2 separate regions of the Homo sapiens genome follow, and region 2 is linked to region 1. Evidence: fine-mapped expression QTL. Tissue or cell type: caudate. Region 1 holds a variant in brackets; the other region holds the start of a gene. All regions are shown on one strand. Distances are between the middles of the regions.

The links. PIP is the estimated chance that this variant, and not a neighbour inherited with it, causes the effect.
Region 2: CHEK1 starts here. The variant in region 1 is fine-mapped to the expression of CHEK1 in caudate (GTEx, PIP 0.91).

What each region holds. Positions count from the first base shown.
Region 1 is chr11:125,766,333-125,773,955 of GRCh38, forward strand. No RefSeq gene overlaps it. Among named protein-coding and RNA genes, the nearest start is that of PATE2, 8.7 kb to the right of the region's middle. The variant T/C (reference allele first, on the strand shown) is at 5,995.
Region 2 is chr11:125,621,292-125,627,457 of GRCh38, forward strand. CHEK1 (checkpoint kinase 1) reads left to right here and starts at 3,872. Exons shown (of 13, transcript NM_001114122.3): 1 at 3,872-4,721; 2 at 5,458-5,542. The coding sequence starts at 5,478. It overlaps STT3A (STT3 oligosaccharyltransferase complex catalytic subunit A), which reads left to right. Exons shown (of 18, transcript NM_152713.5): 18 at 1-1,800. It overlaps LOC118567325 (a long non-coding RNA gene), which reads right to left and starts at 4,603. Exons shown (of 1, transcript NR_170378.1): 1 at 3,846-4,603. RefSeq lists enhancers at 4,038-4,547, 5,364-5,907, 5,468-5,517.

The sequences.
Region 1 (7,623 bases):
GCAATGTTGATCAATTCCTTGCTTTGGAAGTAAAATTCCATGAGTTACTGAGTACCACTCTCAGACTTCTGGGAAGTAGACAGGCCTTACCTTATTCCTGAGTTCATTCCTTCAACAAGTATATATTGGATGCCTGCCACCTGCTAGGTATTGAGAAGTGGCTTGAGGTACTGAGAATACTACTTACAACAAAAGAGACAAGTGAAAACAATGGCGTTTTGAAGAAAGATTCAGAGACTTGGGGATAGAGGAACAAAGCTAGGACCTGGGTTATATCCACAAGAGGACCACCTGAGATAGATTTCACTTTCCTTCTCTTTCCATTGGACTGTGGAGTCATATTGAATGCGTAGTTTGCATTTTAGTTCTGCCTATGCCAGCTGCTCAGTAAGTCTGATACATTTATACATCCCTGAATGATAGTATTGTTGGAAATAGAGAAGCTGGGCCCACCTAGTTAAATTCTTTACTGAGACCCATGTCATGGCAGCAGCATCATATTTGGGATAAAGCTCCTACAGTTTCTACTGTACCACTTATTAGACTTTACGAAAGTAACTTGACCTCCCTATGCTTCATAAGCTTGTAGAAAAAATAAAATGGGATAATGTGCATAAGTGGCTCAGGTCAGCACTTGGCACAAGAAAATGCTCATTATCTATTTAATATTAAAACTATAATCATAATAAATTTTATTATATCAAGAAGGACAGTCGTTGAGTCCCAGGGAGTGACCTGTTGTAAATGAACGAGGGCTCGTGATAGAAATGAGATGTGCAGTTATAGCATTGAAGTGAATTATGAGCAAAATAAGACTAATCTTTTCCCTCAAATGTGCTTGCAAGAAGAGCACTTCAAAGGGGGAATTTTCAGGAAGTGTAGAAACTGAACTTGAAGAGGAGTATTTTGAACTGCTGCTGGACCAAACCCCTGAAACATACAGGCTTGTCCTCCCTTGAGGCAGAGGAGCAGCCAAGCGTAAGAAAGAGCCCGTAGGCCTGGCCCTAGATCCTTCCTGTGGGTTCAAAGCAGCTAATGCCTTGGAGTAGATGGTCAACACTTATCAGCCTGCGAATAGAAACCTGATTTCACAGATAGTATTGGAGAAAACATATTAACTTTCTGACCACCTCAGTAGAAAAAAAAAATCTTTGCTTATACGTAGAGGTTAAATAAGTTATTGCAGAGGCAATAACTTGGACCCAGGAAACATGGGAGCCCAGTTTGGGAATTCAGGACCCACTGGAGAAGACGTCCAAGGTTTTTAACAGTGAGACGTTATTGTAGAAGCTTACATTTCATGAGATGCAAGAACAGTTCCCGGCAAATTCTCACTGTTAACATAGTTAATGCAACAAGAAGAAGAGAGAAGAAACACTATGTTGGTTTTGTAACAAAAAGACTCAAACTCTGTAAAATATTTGAAGAGATTTATTCTGAGCCAATTATGAGTGACCATGGCCCATGACCCTGTCCTCAGGAGGTCCTGAGAACATGTATCCAAGGTGGTCGGGGTGCAGCTTGGTTTTATACATTTTAGGGAGACATGAGACTTCCATCAAATACATTTAAGAAATATAGTAGTTTGTTCCCAAAAGGCAGGACAGCTTAAAGTGGGGGCTTCCAGCTTATAGGTAGATTTAAAAATTTTATGGTTGACAATTGGTTAAGTTTATCTAAAGACCTGAGATCAATAGAAAGGAAATGTTTAGGTTAAGATAGAGGGTTGTGAAGACCAAGTTTTACTGTGCTGAGGAAGCGCTCATGAGACTTCAGAGGGAGTAGGTTGTAAAATGTTTCTTGTTGGGCTTAAAAGGGTGCCTGGCTCTTAGATGATTGTTTCCTGGGTCTGCAAAGAACGAAAAAGTGGGGGAAAGGGGATTCTCTACAGAAAATGGATTATTCCCACAAGAGACAACCTTGTTGCAGGGTAATTTCAAGATAATGGCAAGAAAATATATTCGGGGTTAAAATATTTTGATTCCCTTCCTTATTTGTTATGTGACGTGCCAGAGTCAGTTTGGAAAGCAGGCCACAATATGTAGGGTTAAATAAAATCCCTCCTGTGAGACTTCACGGTTCGTAGGGCACATTCCCCAAGCCCCTTGGCTAGGATTTGAGCAAGATAAAAAAATCAAAGTTCTCAGTTTGCAGGAAAGATAAGAAGCCTCTCAAGTTGGCATTCTGAACCCAAGCTCAGCCTTGTCAGGAGGCGCTGAAGTAGATCCGGCCGAGCAGCCGAGGGCCTGCGGGCAGGACCTCAGAGGCTTCTGAGACTTGGAGAAGTTGTAACAGGGAAAGGTTTATTCTATTTTTGATGTGATTTTTCTCTTTTGTGTCCTACAGTAGCCATCCTGATGCTGGTATAACCTAGGTATCTCTCTGTTCAGGAGTGAAACAAGATTTGGTACAGAAAAAAAACTAAAATAATATAGTAATAAACAGGGTTTGACATTTAAAATCTGATGACGCAACATGATTGCAGCCTCTTAAGTTGGGGAATTATTTTGAGAAGGGGTTTTCCAAACTCCTTTTATCTTTCATCTATTATATCAACAACTGAGCCTGAGGCACACATATCAAAAAACAGTCTCATGATTTAGACGGGATACTTTCAGCCCATTAGTCTATGAAGCCTCAGTGGCTCTATGTTAGAAAGAAAGAATGGGAAGAGGGGAGATGAGAGAGTAAGGATAGCAGAATGTCAGAATTTCTCAACTGGTTGTGTCTGATAGGTGGAGAGAAAAGTCACTGTACTGACTGAGGAATTTATTCTGATTACAAGAATTGAAATTTCTATTACACAATGGGGGCAAGAAAGACAATATTTGAAAATCAGAGAATCCACTGGCTCCTTTACCTAATAGTCCTGTTCATTAGAAAACTGTAACGATGGCCGGGCGCGGTGGCTCACACCTGTAATCCCAGCACTTTGGGAGGCCGAGGCCGGTGGATCACAAAGTCAGGAGATCGAGACCATCCTGGCTAACACGGTGAAACCCCGTCTCTACTAAAAAATACAAAAGAAAATTAGCCGGGCGGGGTGGCGGGCGCGTGTAGTCCCAGCTACTCGGGAGGCTGAGGCAGGAGAATGGCGTGAACCCAGGAGGCAGAGCTTGCAGTGAGCCGAGATCGCGCCACTGCACTCCCGCCTGGGCGAGAGCGAGACTCTTGTCTCAAAAAGAAAGAAGTAAACTGTAACGATGCAGTAAGACAAACTAACAAGCATTCCAATCCTGCACGGTATGCCCCCAGGTTGAGAACCCCGCCCAGCTAAGATGCTACAGAAGTAAGAGCATGGGATGGGAAGTGCAAGAGGGCCACTTTGACTGTCAGCTCAGACATCACAGCCAGTTAAGGAAGTGAAGGCTGCAGCAAATATTTTTATATTGTTTAGTCATTTCATTTGCCTTCCTTGAACTCCACGGCTTTATAGCAAGAGCCCTGATGGTGGCTGCTTCGTGGTCTTTTTGGTGACAGAATGATGAATTGCTATCACCTCTCAAGCATAGGATTGTAATGAGAATTTGTGCATTCTCTCACCCAGATGAAGAAGAATGGATGCTCAGAGGCAAAATGGGTGGGGTGTGCTGGGTGTGCTGGCTTTCCTGCATTTACCCCTTTCGCACCCATTCCCTACCCTTCTCCAGCCTGCTCTCTGCCCCATATCAAATATGGATTATATCACTGGGCCCCCAAAGCCTCTGGACTCTGTTTGAGTGACCAGTGGGAAGCTAATGCAGATCAGCTGAAGGAAATAGTGTGAGGTCACAGGCTTTGGTCTCCTGGTTCCCACTGTAGGACATGGCTTCGGGCTGGCTGTACTCCCAACAAAAAGTTGCTGCTCAACACACTTTCTTCCCAGTCCCAGCAACATCCTTTCCACCTCATCTCTTTAGGTTAAGGGTGGTGAAAATCCAACCTCCTCTTGCTCCAATCCCTCAACTCTCCTTGTGGTTCCCTTATTCCCTGCATAACCCTGTGTGATTAGACCCTTCATAAAAAAAACTTGTTGAAATGCTAATTTAATGTGCCATCTGTTTCCTATTTGAACCCAAATAATACTAACATGTTTCTTGAGACTTTGGCTAAAACCTTGAGACAGCCAGGTGATATAGAAGAAGGTGTGCTGCCCAAGGTTGATGCCGCAAAGTACTGAAACAGGTGTTTTCAGGAGTTACAGGACCAATGGATAATGAGGGAGCTTTGACCCGTGGGCTAGACTGTTTAACTGAAAAAGTGATGAGTATCTTAGGTTTGGTTACCTAGAAGCAGAATCTGAGATACGAATTCTAGTGCAAGTGATTCATTGAAAAAGTACTTTCAGGAATAACCTGTAAAGGAGTAAAGAAAGCAGAAGAGAGCAAGGGGAGAAACAAGGCACAAGCGTGGTTTCAGCTTAAGCATCAGGCTTAAGAGCATGCCAGGGGATAATTGACAGCACAGGCTCATCCCATCTCTAGGCAAAGGGGCAACCTCATGTGTCCCTGTATCAGTCATTTTTTTGTGTGTCACCCACAACAAGAGGCATTTCTAGGTGAGGTGGATCCCCTGATCCAAGAGCAATTCTCAAGAGAAGGGTGTCACTGGTAGCTATTAGTAGCTAATATTTATAGCACTGCCAAGTAAAGAGGACCTGGACAGGGCTCCAGTTGCATCTATTAGAGTCTATACCTTATTCACTGAGATCAACTTGTTTCTCACAGTAAAAACTACTCTATCAAGGCAGTTTCCCCAAATTAGCCAGAATTTCTTGCAAATGTTTTTAGAGGAGGGTTAATAGGAAGAACTACTCTCCACTGCTGCAGTTGGTCAAGGGGACATAAGGTATATTTATTACGTCCTTCCTCTCCCACACCAGTCTCACTTCTGCTGGTCTAGGTGGCTTGACAGGTGGGATAACCCAGACCCTTATCCTTGAGGGGTCTGTGCTCCTGGTCTGTATGAACTTATGAGACTACGGCGTTGTATTTTCCTATTCACATTTCACACTGGGCAGGAGAATAACAAGAGATGCCCCAGTGGGGCATGTTTATGAATATGTTTGCCTGAACACCAAACGTATTCCTTACTGCCTTCATATATAGTAGTAGTCTACCTTCTTGTGATGTTCAGGACCAATTACTTCTTCCAGCATAGTAACTGCTTTCTGTGTCTGTTAGTCTACTGGCACAGGGAGCTCAAATTGTCCAGGAGGCAGCCGTAGCTTTAAGTTTTGAGAGACACCTACTGAGTCACCTGATGAAAGGGTTTCTCCTCTGGACATCAGGACATCTAGAGGCACACGATGTCAAGCTACAGGGCAGCAAACACAAATCCCCCAAGTGGTCTCCCAAATGGATCTCCAAGCTTGTTGGTTTCCAAACTCACGTTTCTGTCTGTCGGGGGCACTACACCATATAATGGCCATTGGCTTAATGTTCCTGGGTCTGAGAACTGGCTCGGGTATGAAAACTAGGCAAGGGATTATGACTTGTCATTCGTCAGTTGAAGCCCATATTCTGCTCATTCATTTTTTATTTCTTTTGATCATATGTATTAAGCACTACTCTTGGAGGAGCACACAACTTGTTCCTAAGAAAACCAGGTTTTATTCGTTATCTCTGTAGAGTTCTAGGGGCCAGGATTCTATGGCTACCATCCAGTCTTGCTACCCATTACAGGAATTTTGCCTACCTCGAATCTGATGATTAAGTGCTGACACCTGGCTCTTCCTAGCTCGTGATCCTATCTTCCCCGTTCTTAGGGAGCCCAATTCTGTGGCAGCGCCTCTTTCCATCAGCTCCAGCCTACAGAGGAAAGTCACTAGTGATCTTCTCAATTATGCTGACAAATCCTTCACCTGCAGATTTTTACTTCCCTGATACAGGCCAGCAAGTATTTCTTCCAAACTTACATAAGTGATCTACTCTAACATGCTGAATTCTCTGAGCCTTTCGTTCCCCTCTTCCGCAATCTGACAAGGCAGTTTTTGCATTTCTACTTTATTTAATG[T/C]GGGCTGACACTTTTTGCAACTTGTCAAGAGCCATCCATCGGTGGATCAGGAACAATCAGTCTCCAGTGCACTTATCATGGGAAAGTGCCACATAAAAAAATTCTCCCTTATTTGGTTTCATATTCCATCCTTATCAATCCAGCACCCTCAGAATTTACTTCCAGGTATGTTCTCCCAGTTGTAGCCAGAATATGTCAGGTAGGCTCTTCAGCTCCTTCAGTGTCAAATCCCTCTCCTCCCTTAAAAAGAGCAGCACTTCCCCAGTTTTTCTATGATGAGCTTTGACCCAATTCATTGCTCTGGTTGCCAGCAGAGAAAGTACGGGCAGATCCTGGGAAAGTCAGGCATTATCCTGTAAGACATTTTTGTGGTCTTTCCATGCTGTTCTAGCAAGAAGACTGCTATCTTCCTGCATGGTCATTGGGACAAAAGAAAAATTTCAGGGCTTAAGGAGTTAAGTATACCAATCCAGATATCCCCATTATCCCAAGTCTCAGAGTCACACTCCTTCCTTATGAGGGCCCTGACTTTGGCTCAGGAGACTTGTCTGGGCTAAGAATTTCATTCTCTCTAAAGTTCTCCAACCCTTACAGTTGAATGCCTTGCCTCATTATCAGCTGCAAGAAATGAAGGTATTTCTAAATGCTGCCAAGAAAGGCCTCTGACTCACACTTTGCTCTAAATTTTTGGATTAATAAATACGAGCCTGCTATTTTCTGTCTTTGGTGCTCCAATCATGCTTAGCAACAGCCATCCAATGCCACAATCCTTATCATCACTATCATCTCTGCATTTCTCAGAGTCAGAGATACCCACAAGCAAATTCATCTTCCACCTCTTCTAAGTCCAAGTTCACCACAATTGAAAGTTTTAACAATCACACTGCTACCACATATCAGCAACGGTCAGTACTCCAAATACCACCATAGGGTACTCATTGACATTTAGCCAGTTGAACAATCCAATGCAATATTCCTTATTATGGCCTGCTTTTTGTGACCACTCCTGTTACCAACTGTCTTTGGCCAGGTTCCACAGAAGCAGAACTTGAGAAGAGGATTCTGATGCAAATAATGCAGTGAGGAAGTGCTCTCAGGAGAAAACTATAAGGGAATGAGGCAAACGGTACAATGGGGTGATGCTTGAAGAAGATGTGATTCAGGTGAAGTCAGGCTTTGTCCAAAAGATAACTCTGGAACATAAATGACACTATACCCAGCCCCAACTTGTGCAAGTTAACCTCCCTTTTATTCACACATATCAGTCAACCATTGGCTGTGGGTCACCCTTGGGGAGAGGGCAAACCTTCCAGTCATTTCAAGTGAGAAGCTCCTCCTGTCTGAGAGCAATGCTCAGAAGAGTGCGGCCATGAGTTGTTAGCGGGAAAGAAGCAGAGTTTCTCAAGGGCTGGGCTGTCAGTAGCTGACTGCTTAGTCATAATTCAATAGGGATTTAATAACGTGGAGGACAGTGAGAGAGTACATTTTTATGTAACTTTGTAAGAAGTAAGAACAAATTCATAATGTGTTAAAGTTATAACAATGGTTGCTAGATAAAGCAGAGGATGGCTACACACAGAAGGAAAGGAGACAGCTAGGCTCGACCATGCTTGCTTGTGTCTTCCAAGC
Region 2 (6,166 bases), 150 kb before region 1:
AACAGCGTGGCTCAATAAATTTTTATTGAATGAATAAATGTGGGACCAGAAGAGTGCTAGAAGAGTGCCTTTCTGGGCTACTATGTCTCTGTTCTCAATGTCTTTTATCCTTAGACGCTCTTTGACTTTATAAATCAGCAGTTTTGAAGACTCAAGACAAACAGTGAAATTATTGGTTTATCAATGGAGAGGAAGAAACTCTTCCAGCATTACATATAGAGCTTGATGGTCAGTAGGTGTTTTTGAATCAGCTTAAATATAATCATACATATCAATTTGAAATGGAGCTTTTCAGTACTCTCACTTATTCATGACACAGGAATGACCCTTTACTCAAAACTCTTGTGGTTGTTCAAAGGTGAGCTTCTTTTTCCCTTAGTCTTAGCCTATGTGTTGCTGTTGTATATTGTTACCAAGTTCAACTACCTAATTTTGAAGCTCTTTCCAAATAAGATACAAATTAAAAGGGGAAGCATTGCCAGTAACAGGTCCCTAGAGAGCAGTGCCAGCCTGCCTGCAAGAAAAGAGGAGAAACTTCTTAAAAAGTTTTAAGCCTGGGCAACATAAGGAGATTGTTTCTATGAAAAATAAAAATTAGCCAGGTATGGTGGTGTACACCTGTAGTCCCAGCTACTCGGGAAGATGAGATTGGAGGATCACTTGGGCCTGGGAGGTTGAGGCTACAGTGAACTGTGATTGTGCCACTGTACTCCAGTCTGGGCGACAGTGAAATCTTGTCTAAACAAAAACAATTTAACTGGGAAGCACAGTGGTCCTTGAGGACATTTAATATCAGGACAAAGAGCCTATGAATATATCACTGATGTATATAAACCCTAAGGCGTTAATAAAAGCTAACTGTTTAGTGTTATCCATTTAAGGGAACAGGAGGAATTGCATAACTTTTAGATTAGTCATAGTGGTGCTCCTAAGGGATATGCTGTTGTATATTTGTATAGCCAGGGCACTTAGCCTTCCAAACCAATTTATATACCATGTTCTTCAACTGTGGGTGAGATTTAGCCTCAAGATTTGATTTACTATATGTAAGTACATTACTTGATTTCTATAAAGAATCTTTAGTGGAAGAGGTTATTCTGAATTATTTATCAATATGATTAATACCAGTTAGAAATTATTAATGATCTTCCTTTATACTATACATAGGATAACTTTTAACTTGTCGCTACAGTTGTTGCTCTGAGGATCTTAATTTTGTTACTTTCTAGGCTACATGAAGCTATCTTTTTAAAAAGTGTACTCTTCATTTTCACTGTTATTGTGTACTTAGCATAAAAAACTCAAATCTAGGCCAGGTGCAGTGGCTCATGCCTGTAATCCCAGCACTTTGGGAGGCTGAAGCATGCGGATCACTTGAGCCCAGGAGTTCAAGACCAGCCTGGGCAACATGGCTAATGAACACTAAGCATAGTTTTGATGTCTTTCATATTAAAGACTTTCTCAAATTCTTGCTAGTCTGCTCCTCTTTAAGAGTGGGACCCTAGGCAGGGCGCAGTGGATCATGCCTGTAATCCCAGCACTTTGGGAGGCCGAGGCAGGCAGATCACTTGAGGCCAGGAGTTTGAGACCGGCCTGGCAACGTGGGAAAACTCTGTCTCTACTAAAAATACAAAAATTAGCTGGGTGTGGGGTACACACCCTGTAATCTCAGCTACTGGGGAGGCTGAGGCATGAGAATTGCCCAGGAGGTGGAGGTTGCAGTGAGCAGACATCATGCCACTGCACTCCAACCTGGGAGACAGAGCAAGACTGTCTCAAAAAAAAAAAAAAAAAAAAAAAAGAGTGGGACCCAAAAAAGCTGATTGAAAGGTCTGTTTGTAGGGGGTGTAGATGGGGATTAATAATGTGGGTTTCAATCTACTGTGATCTGGCTGGGCTGTTACATTGGGAAATCCATGATACTGATTTTTAGATTTTTATCTTTTGCATAGGTAAGATTCCCTTGAGAAGGCTTGCATATTCTCTTACTCAAGGATGTAAGCCAGGCAGTCAGCTTTCTGGGAGTAGAGTAGGGAAAGAAGTTGTAACAGGCTCAACCTTCAGTGGATAAAACTTAAACTTAATCCCTCCGTTTTCAGTAAGGTGCCCAAGCTTTTAACTGTGCCTAATGGTCTCCAGTTCACATACTGTGCATTTACCCTCTTAAATCTCGTACCAGCTTTGGGGAGGGACAGTTCCTTGGTTACATAGAAAGGGAAGGGATACGGGGATCTATTTGTTTTTTATGTAGCCTTTAAACCTACCCCTTTTAGCCCCATTTTTACCTCCACCTTCAGTTACCTGGTGTCACCAGTTCAACTTGAGCTTTTTCAGAGTTCTGTGATGTTAATTCTGCTTTCCATTGCTAGCTTTGGGATTCATCTTCATTACCTTTCATCTAAAGGCTTTCTGCTTTCCAAAATGTGTCTCATACTCTGTTCTTATGGGTTCTTTTAAATATTGGTATCCTTTACTATTAAAATATTTTAGTGGGCTTTCAGAAGAGAATAGAGGCTATTTCTATGTATTCTGTCTTTAACTGGTATTCTGCTGGAGTCTGTATATCTTTTTTTTTTTTTTTTTCAGGCTAAAAAGACTCCATCAGACACACAGGAAATTTGCAGGTCTTCCTCTTCGTATTCTTTGTTTTCAGCACACAGTGAGGAAACAAGAGAAAATGGGATAAATGATATAAAAACTTGCTTTTATTTTTATACCAGGCCCTGTGGCTCGCTTCTGTAATCCCAGTGACTTGGGATGCTGAGGTAGGAGGATCACTTGAGCTCAGGAGTTCCAGGCTGCAGTGAGCTAAGACTGCCCAATTGCACTCCAGCCTGGGTGACAGAGCAACACACCCTGTCTCCAAAAACAACAAACTGTAAAAAGATTACATGAAGCCTAATCTGTGATGTCATGATTCAAAACTATACACATAAGCATTTTAAGAGTTTTTTCCTTGATTTTTGTTCCTGACTTTGCTTCTTTAAAAGAAATGTGTGTTTTTGTTGTTGGTTGTTTGTTTTTGAGACGGAGTCTTGCTCTGTTGCCCAGGCTGGAGTGCAGTGGCACAATCTCTGCTCACTGCAGCCTCTGCCTCCTGGGTAGCTGGGATTACAGGCACTCGCCATCGTGCCCGGCTAATTTTTGTATTTTTAGTAGAGACGGGGGTTTCACCATGTTGGCCAGGCTGGTCTTGAACTGCTGACCTCAGGTGATCCATACGCCTCAGCTTCCCAAAGTGTTGGGATTACACGTGTGAGCCACCAGGCCCCGGCCTTGAGTAACATTTTATACTTGTTTCACTTTACTATTATCATAATAGCCAGTTATGCTTAGTGTTTGTATGTGGCCCAGTCTTAAGGACTAAGAAAATATATATGTATATATATAAAATATATACATATAAAAAAATATGTTTTTTTCCTACGGAATCATGCTGTTGCCCAGGCTGGAGTGCAGTAGTGCTCACTAACCTCTAACTCCTGGACTCAAACGATTGTTCTGCTTAGGCCTCCCAAGTAGCTAGGGCTACAGGGACACACCACCAAGCCCGACTAATTCCTAAATTTTTTTATTTGTAGAGATGGGGTCTCCCTATGTTCCCCAGGCTGGTCCTGAACTCCTGGCCTCAAGCCATTCTCCTGCCTCGCCTTCCCAAAGTGCTGGAATTACAGGCAGGAGCCACTGCGCCCGGCCAGTGCTGGAGAATGTAATGGAGATGATCCTGCCTATCCCTGAGTTCCAGTCTAGTTTACTGTCAGAGAATACTTATTTCCATTTTTCCTATTTTGTTCTTGAGTCTCTTTCCTCAGAATTTACTTTTCCACTTAAATGACGTACGCAGCTTTTAAATTTGCGTTGTAAGATTTATTTTGGCTCTCCCCGCCTGTTCTTTGCACATTAAAAATGAAAAAGTTTGTAGAACTAAGCTAAGCAGATGGTCTTCCTGCAAAAAGACCGGGCTGAAGTAAAGCATTGTTTTGGAGCTGGTTCACAGAAAAAAGGCAAAACTGGTTATCCTGACTTCAAGCTCCAACATAAACTGCTCGCTTTCTCCGGGAAACTTGCCCCGCCACACACACTTGACTGCGTGGCCAGTTCTTTCGAAGCCTCTCGCTCCCAACACGGAGTTCCTCCCATTTCTTCACAGTCGGCTCTCAGCAGCTGCTGCTGGTTTCTCGGCTCCAGCACCACGAGTACCGCACTCTGAGGTTTACAAAGCACTCTGCTTCACCGACTGTGATCCTCACAGTCCTGTCCGGTGGCCTCACGCAGGTGGCGGTGCAGCCTTTCAGGCCCAGAGCGGCCAGGAGCGAAGCCCGCAGCCCCGCCTGGAAGCGCAGCGCGGTCGGTCGCGCGCCCCTGAGGCTTGGAGGCCTGGGCTTCCCCCAGCAGCGCTCGAGCACCGCCCAGTCGAGCCTCACACCGGATGCCACTTCATATTTGGGCCCAGAGCTCAATTCGCGCCGATGCGGTCCGCCGTCCTTAAATCTCTTCAGCCAGGATCTCTCCCCGACTGCAAAGCAGCCCTGGGCGGGAGCGGCAACATCTCCACGTCACCCTTTTGGAGCCGCCGACATTCAGAGGGGCAGGACACGGGAACGCGCGCTGTCTTGCTTTACGGCGCGGGTGCGCGAGTTTGCGGCAGCGTGACGCCCTCAAGTTTTGGCGGGAAAAGCGCTGCATTTGGATTCCTGCAGTGGTGGGCAAAGGACAGTCCGGTGAGGAAGGGCGGCCGGTAGAGTAGGGAAGGTTTCTAAAGAAGGAGTTCGGGGTCTAGATTAGTGAGGGAGGGCATGGTGGGAGAAAGTTAGCATTGACTAGCGCAGGGGATTGGAGAGACTCCTGCGGAGGGGCGGTTTCGGAGGGTGGAGGAATGGTACCAGGAGGTTCCCGTTGTGGGGGCGGGGGCAGGAGGGACTAACCCGCTGCTAGCTAAGAACCCCAAGGAAGAGTCCCAGCCCTTCCTTTCGCCTCTGGGGGCAGTTTGGCCCCGCCCCGGCCTTTGGGACGGGTGGGGCTGTGGATGGGGATGGGAATTGGAATTGAGCAATTGGGAGGAGGCGCTGCCGCAGGCGTTTTCTGCCCCATACCGCTCCCTATATCCTCTTCCTCTCTTCCCCAGACCCCCACCTCTCCCTCCTCCTTCCCCAGTCGTTCGCCGGAAAGCATTTGTCTCCCACCTCTTCATAACAACAATTAATTTCCTCTGGGGCCTGAGGAGGGCAGAATTTCAACCTTCGGTGTGCTTGGGAGTGGCGATTGTGATTTACACGACAAAATGGTCAGGTTTAGAATAGTTGTTCGTGGTTGAAAGACTTGGATAAATGTGGATGAGATAGAAGGGGAAGGCAAGAGCTGTTAATTTTCGTGGGCAATCCTGGGGAGAGGCGGGGCTCAGTGGCTTCACTGGTGATCTTACACTCTACATCTTTTCTGGATTCCTGCCTTTTACAGCCGAGGTGCTCGGTGGAGTCATGGCAGTGCCCTTTGTGGAAGACTGGGACTTGGTGCAAACCCTGGGAGAAGGTGCCTATGGAGAGTGAGTTCTTTTAAGCTTGCCTTCGTTTTCTGAGTGCATATTCATTGTTTTGGAGTCTCACACTCTGGTGATTTAGAAAGTAGATGTTTGAGATCCAAGGGTTTTGGCAACTGAAGTTACACAGCCTTTTGCTAGGATTAAAAATTTTTTCCTTCCCTTTAAAAAAAAAAGTTTTCTTTGTAGAGAGCTGGAAGGGACACGAAGTTATTGTTTCCATGCCCACAAATTGCTTCTCAGGGTTTAAGCATTGCGGTTAATGAGCAAATGAGCAGACTCTGGAGATTGCCTGCCTGGTTTCAGATCCTTGCTCTATCACATACTGGTCATTGTTTTGTGATCTTAGGCAAGCTTCTTAATGTCATTGTGTACCTCTCCTTCACTACCTTTAGGGTGGCAATAATCGCATCTACCCCATAGGAGCTTAGGACAGTCAGTTACACAAGCACATATAGTATGGGATTAATGCTCTTAAAAGTATATGAGTAGAACATGTATATATGTGATGTGGCTTAGAATTATCTCAATCTATTTTATGAAGCGTTTATTAAATGACTTGTGTGACAGCATAATGACGTCTTTGGAGGGTTAGCTATTGTATTTCACATTTTAGAAAAGAGTAGTGTG